2 linked regions of the Homo sapiens genome follow. The protein of the gene in region 2 purifies or fractionates together with the protein of the main gene of each other region. This does not show direct contact. Each region holds a gene or a part of one and is shown on either strand. Other genes may lie near its edges.

Region 1 (3,653 bases), on a different chromosome or scaffold from region 2:
AACCAATAGTAACAAATAATGAAGCAAGGTAAACAAATGGGAACAATAACAAAAACAAGAAAGTTGTAAAGGCATGTGCAGCATGATATAATGGAAAATGGGAGAGGAGTTAGAGATGGACTCACATGGACTCACATACCATTTCCACCATTTCCACCATTTTCCAGCTTTACTACCTTATGCAAATTACTAAACCTGTCTATACCAGTTTCCTCATCTGTAAAATGAAATATTTAATATGGCATGTTGCATTAGAGTCTAAGGATGCAAAGTTCCAAGCCTAGTGGGAAGGCAACATTTTATTCAACCTTGAGTTAACTTCATGAGACTAAAGGCAATTTCTCAATTATTTCTGTGTTCCTGCTGTGCTTTTTTAGGAGACTCATAAATTTCTGTTAAATTATAACAGTAACAGCAAAACCTTCTACTTCATACATGGTTGAAAATGTTCAGCTATGCTTACATAAAGGAAAAAAGAAAAATAAATCAAATTTTGAAATATGTCTTCCTTTTTGGCTTATAAGTTAGAGAATATGTCTTTTATTTTTTCTGTCACCAAAGCACAGGTAATCATTTATTTCAGTTTATAGCTTTCAATATATAAAGCATGAATATATTATATTACGCTTATGGGAGAAAGAACACAATGTCAAGAGGAAGAAACCACATTATAAAATACTAAACCAAAACAGATCCCAAGTAAGCTCGTAAAGATTATCCAGCCCTCATCTTCAATGTCATAAGGTCGTGCAAATGAGGTGTTAACCCAACCAGGAGAGCCAATGACATTAGTCACAGTCCCTAAATATCTGATTAAATGGCAAATCCTGTCACAGTAAGTAGAAGGCATCTCTTTCACTAGGGGTCTCCCTAAGCCAGTTAACAAAGCAAAACACCTGGATACTGAGGAACTCTATCACAAGAAACCTTTGCTTTTCTCTGCCAGCCAATTTCTATTAGGCCTGAATGGGTAACAGGAAACTTAAACTACATAGCCTAGGAAGACTACTTGCACTTTTAAATTATTTATACCCTTACTGATTCTGCATCATTTAAAAAGAGAGAAAAGGAATCTATCCAATTCCCTAATTCTGACCACCTAAACTCAAATGAACTTCTTTCCCTTTACTCTTCTACCACCCATTCCCTGGACTTCATCATCCTCTAGTGCTGGGCAATCTGAAATGCAATATTCCCACCATTGTCCCAACTCCTATCCTTCTAGCTCTCTCACTCCCCAACCCCACTGCTCTTTGATGAAATAGGTGCTGCTAGCCTTTAACCTTCCCATCATCATCCAGTCAATCCAAACTATTGGCTTTCCTTCTTTGGGAATCCAACCTAGCTCTCACAATCCACCATTATTTCAACCACTCTTCCTGCTAAGACTCTTAAGTGTTCCAAGACAATTTCTCCTCCACTTCTCCAAAGTGATCCACTGCTCTCCTCAAACTTGCCACCCCCTACTTCTTTTATCACTTAATTATTCCTACTAACAAGCTTGTTTCTTATCTTCGCAAGAAAGCAGAGGCCACAGACCAAACTGCCCACAACTTGTCGCTCCCTTCTGTCAAATTTGTCACATTCAAACCCGGTTTTTCCTTTGTCCTTCCTCTGTCAGAAGGTAATGTGTCCTTTCTCAGATTGAAATCCTGTTCATATACTTATGCCACTGAAACTTCAGTTTTCTCAAGGACCTTCCTCTAACGAGTTTTACCTTTCTCTCCTGTATCTTTAACCTCAGTCTGCCCAGCAGCCTTTTTCTTTAATGTTGTTTCCCACAGTTCCTTTTCCAGTCCTGATATTCTCACTCTATACACACACTCTTCCTGGCCCATTTCATCCAATTCTATGGTTTCAAATATTATTTATAAACTGATACTCCTAAATTTGAAATTCCAGACTTCCCTCTTAAGTGCCAAACCATCATTTTCAAACACCTACTGGTCAGTTCCACTTGGATGTCACACATAAATCTTAATATAATGACTACTCTGCTGGGTGTGGTGGCTCACGCCTGCTATCTCAGTACTTTGGGAGGCCGAGGCGGGCAGATCACCTTAGGTCAGGAGTTCGAGACTAGGCTGGCCAACATGGTGAAACCCCGTCTCTATTAAAAATACAAAAAATTAGCCAGGTGTGGTGGCACGCGCCTGTGATCCCAGGTACTCAGGAGGCTGAGGCGGGAAAATCACTTGAACCTGGGAGGCGGAGGTTGCAGTGAGCCGAGATTGTGCCACTGTACTCCAGCCTGGCAACAGAGACTCCGTCTCAAACAATATACACACATGACTACTCATTTTCCCCCAAAACATTTCCTCCTCTTTTATTTCTTCTCTTAGTGATCCACCTAGTTTCCCAAGCCAGAAACCTGGGAGGCATCACACATTTCTCTCTCTCCATTATATAAAAGATTACCATGCCTTGGTAATTTTTACCTTTTCAATCTATACGCTCTTTCACTACTGTCTAACTCAATGCAAGCAACCTTCTGTCTATGTCCACTACTGCTTCAAAACAGAGAATCATCATTTTTTAAACTTTGCTCTCTTTGCTTCAGTCTCAATACCCTCTAATTCTTCCTACCAACTGTCAAGGCAATGTTACTAAATATCAATTTGATCATATTACTCTCTTTCAAAAAGCTCTAATGGCTCCAATCATCTTCAGTATAAAATTTATTTTACATGGAATACTAACAACGTGTGCTATTTCCTCTGCTAGGAATGACTCCCCTCCTCCAACTTCCAGGCTCAGTTAGATACCCCTCATCTGTACCTGCAAATAGGAAATAATAAGAAAGTTTTTATTCATGAAATACATAAACATAAAGCTTCAGAGTTGTCTTCCTCTAAAGGCCACTGAATATTAATCACATAGAAGTGATCATGGAAGGCTTCAAAGTAATTTTTAAAACAAAGGAAAAAATTTCATACAATATTCCCAAATTAGCTAGTACAGTTGTACTAAAAAAAGTTATACTGCTAAAACATGAAGATTTATGTATAACAACTAAGAAAAATAGAAAAAAAGAGAAAGAGGTTATTATAAAATGACAGAATAAAGCCATAGCCACTACAACAACAATTTAATATACAAAGGATAGAGTTATAAATGAAAACAGTAAGGTAGGAAAAACCATGTAGAAGTCCAAAGACAGTAAGTAAATATCAGTAAATAAAGCACTATTCTTTATCAATACTCTTTTATTGGTTTTTCTAACAGATTTGAAATCTTTAAATCCAGCTTATTATTAATTTTAAAAAAGAATTACATGGGCAGCCTGGGATACGCCTATAATCCTAGCACTTTGGGAGTAGGAGGTGGACAGATTGCCTAATCGCAGGAGTTGGAGACAAGCCTCGGCAACATGGTGAGACCCTGTCTCTACAAAAAAAATACAAAAATCAGCTGCGTGTGGTGGCATGCACCTGTAGTCCCAGCTACTCAGGGGGTTGAGGTGGGAGAATCACTTGAACCCAGGATGTCAACGCTGCAGTGAGCCAAGATCCTGCCACTGCACTTCCAGCCTAGGTGAAAGAGATCCTGTCTCAAATAAATAAATAAATAAATAAATAAATAAATAAATAAATAAAATAATAGTCAAGCACTATGGCCATAAAAGACAGAAATGACTAAAAATTTGAAATAAA
Region 2 (3,653 bases):
GGGAAACTGCTGGAACTCGAGGTGAGGATCAGCCTTTTCCAGCATCCTGTGAGAGACCAGAGAGAGAGTTTGGATTTCATGTGGGGAACCCTCAAGGCCTGTCTGGAGAAGTGACACAGGATTTACTGGGGTGGGCTGGTCCAGGTAGCTCTCCTGAACCTCCTCCTTCCCCAAGCTGAGAAGCTGAGAGCTGGAGGACAATATCCAGGGACATGGCTCTGGAAAATAACTTTTTTTTTTTTAAGAGACAGGGTCTTGCTCTGTTGTCCAGGCTGGAGGGCAGTGACATAATCATAGCTCACTGTACCCTTGAACTCCTGGGCTCAAGTGATCCTCCTGCCTCAGCCTCCTTAGTAGCTGGGACTACCAGTGCATACCACCATGCCTGGGTGATTTTTTAAATTTTTTATACAGACAAGGTCTTGCTATGTTGCCCAGGCTGATCTTGAATTCCCGGGCTCAAGTGGTCCTCCTGCCTCAGCCTCCCACAGGATCGGGATTACAGGCAAGAGCCTCCACGCCCGGCCATGAAATATAATTCTTAATATCATACAGGAAAAAGTCAGCGGGTCAAGCTAGCCTGTGGCCCAGCCACAACTAGCTGACAAAGCTTCCTGGCCTTCCCTTTAACACAGTTCTGCTGCCATAGTTCCATCTATAAAATGGGAATGGAGGGAAATAGGGGAACTGGGAGAGAGAACACAGCCTTGCCAAGCAGCAATGTTAGCCTGATCCTTCCTCCACCTAGCTCGCCATCTCGCCCTTGGAAAATGGCTCCTGGAGGATTAGGCAGCCATCTGCAAGGAGAGGGGCAACCTGGGACAAGACACCCAGAGGGTAAGGATTCCAGGAATGAAGCTGCCATTTCTGGTTGGGAGGAGAAGAGGAAACTTTTAAGAGAAAGGGCTCCATTATGAGCATGGGTTCAGGGCCCTGCATTACCCAATCAGAACAGCCGGGATGAGCAGGAGGCCAGCTCCCAGGAGGAAGGGGAACCCCTTCATAAAGTTCAGAGTGGCTGGGTAGAGTGAGTTGAAGATGCCGGAGGCCGTCAGCATGGCCAGGCTATTCACACAGGCCACAGCAGAAAAGAGAGCACCTGTGAAGAAATAAATACCATACTCTGGAGTCCGAAAGGGCCATATTCCAACTCTGGCACCACCACCTCACAGCTGTGTGACCGGGAGTAGTCACTTAACCTATGTCTCCCCTTCCTCACCAGTAAATCCTGCTACATCATGTACTGTGACAAGGATTCAGTAAGGTCATATGTGGACAGTAGCTGGCACAGAGGGGCTACTAAACAAATGGCTGCTATTAAATCCACATTAAAAGTACATGTGATCTGACAGAACCCAGCACATAAAAGAAAAAAAAAGTACATGTGATATTGTCTGATGAAAGCTTGATGGAAATGGCTTTTTTCTGGTTTATCCTCTTTGGAATCATCTCCTGTTTGGGATTAACTGCTGGTCTGATCAGTTCCAATATTCATAGCGGTGTCACCACTGAATAGCTTCTTATCCTTTGGGTTCCTGTTCCTCCTTCTGCTAAATAAGGATAATACCTATTTCCTAGATTGTGAGCAACATTAAGTTCACATGGAAATCACCCATCACTGGGCCTGGTCCCCTGGAAGTAGCTAGTTAGTAAGGGCTGTTCTTTTCTCCTGTTTCTCTTGACATCTCTGGGCACAGAGAAAGTGCTGGGAAAAAAAGTTTAGGTGAATGAATGAAGACACATGGATTCTGGGGACACCAGAACCCACAGTGGGCTCTGTATGGCACCAGAGTCTCTGTCATCATCAGATCCTCATTCCAGGACAGATGGAAAAAGATGAATGTTTCCAGACTGGGGCATAAAGACCCAGAGGCTGGAGAAGCTGTTCTTTATAGATATACCAGGAGAACCCACAGTTTACAAAATGTGCAACAACCCAACAGAAGTTGAGATTAAATTCTGTCACATCTAGAGGGGTCTGTGATGTCATCAAAAGCAAACCACCCACATCACAGATGAAGAAACAGGCCTGTGGCAGGGCTCGGACTAAAACCCAGATCCTGAGACCAGCTGCTTTTAAACACAGACGTAGGTTTGCATCCTAGCTCCACCATTTACTGAGTAACCTTGGGTGAGCCAATGTAACCCCCTGGGTCTCTGTTTCTTTATCTGTCAACTGTGGAAAATGAAACCCATGTCACAAGGTTGTTCACTTCTGGGCTTGTACACGCTGACCCCAGAGAAACAGGGAACTCTGGCATCACCACACCCATCTTACAGACGGAAAAGCTGAGGTCTGCAGAGAGTAAATCCTCTGCTCTGGTTATCTAGAAAGAACATAATTGTGCTCTGCTGACTGCAAATCCCAACTCTGCGGTTTGAAAATCCAAGGTGGCATGATCCTCTGCCCATTGTGGGCAATTTCACAGAAATGTGTTTGTTTTGGCCACTTACTTCTCCAGGGTGAGAGGGGGGAAGGCAAGCTGTTCCCCCAGCCATGGCTGCCCATCAGCCCGTTTCGGGCAGCACTGGACATGAGGAACCAGACACAGGTGGGTTCTGACACTCACCCTGCTCTGTCTCTCTCACCAGCTTGGAGAGTTTAGCCCGGATGACAGGTGTGATGACTAATGACAGGAAAAGCAACCCATATCCTGTGGAGAAACAAACACTCATCAGGAAAATGGGGCTGGGGAGAGGGGCGTCCAAGGGAAAGGCAGCAGAGCTCCTATCCATACCCCACGTGGGGCTTAGGTTAGACCCAGGAAGAACTTCCTTGATGGTGAGGGTGGGAAGACAGTAGTCAAGGAGGAATGGAGACTGCCCTTGTCTGGGCTTGGCCACCTGCTAGCTCTCATGAATGAATGCTAATTCCCATTGATTGCTTTCTTGTCTGAACCTCTTGTGGTCACAGCAGGCATCACCCACCCACTTGGCACTTAGTAGGGATATGGCAGGGCACAGAAAACAAGCATGGGCTTTGGAGTCAGCCCTGAGTTCAAAACCTGATGCCATTACATATTATCTGTGTGGCCTGGGGTACTTACCCTCTCTGATCCTGACTCCCTGTATGAGGAAGATAATAAGGCCTTCATCACAGGATGGTTCTGAGGCATAGGAGGCTGAATAATGGTGCCCAATGGCATCAGATTCATAGCCCTGGAACCTGTAAATACTACCTTATTTGGAAAATGAGTCTATGCAGGTGTGCAGTTAAGCCTCCTGAGAGAGCAGAGTTATCCTGGATTAGGTTGGGCCCTAAATGCCGTCACACATATCTTTATAAGAGGAAAGCAGACGGAGATTTGGCACCGACAGAATTGAGAAGGCACAAAGAGGAGGAGAGTCAATGTGAGCACAGAGGCAGAGACTGGTGATGGCCGCCCCAAGCCAAGGAATGCCAGCAGCCCCAGAAGCTGGAAGAAATGAGAAACACGTTCTCTCCTGGAGGCTTGCAAGGGAGCACTGCCTGCTGACTGCTTCCATTCAGCCCGGTGGTACTGACTTTGGACTTCTGGCCTCCAGAACTGTGAGAGAATATGTTTCTGTTGTGTTAAGCCCCCAAGTTTGTGGTATGTCATTACAGCAATCTCAGGGAACCAATACATGAGGTAAAAAGGTAACATCTATGAAGAGCATGGCATAGGGACACA

The links.
Region 1: the proteins of SLC46A1 (region 2) and MON2 purify together in Homo sapiens (affinity purification with mass spectrometry; one large-scale study listed by BioGRID and IntAct). This does not show direct contact.

The regions. Positions count from the first base shown.
Region 1 is NC_000012.12:62,469,826-62,473,478, reverse strand, and holds part of MON2 (protein MON2 homolog), read right to left. Parts: intron 2,779-3,653; exon of another isoform or gene 2,701-2,778; intron 1-2,700. UniProt on the Homo sapiens protein: Plays a role in regulating membrane trafficking of cargo proteins. Together with ATP9A and DOP1B, regulates SNX3 retromer-mediated endosomal sorting of WLS away from lysosomal degradation.
Region 2 is NC_000017.11:28,399,668-28,403,320, forward strand, and holds part of SLC46A1 (proton-coupled folate transporter), read right to left. Parts: exon of another isoform or gene 2,655-3,653; coding exon 2,571-2,654; exon of another isoform or gene 1,100-2,570; coding exon 943-1,099; exon of another isoform or gene 47-942; coding exon 1-46.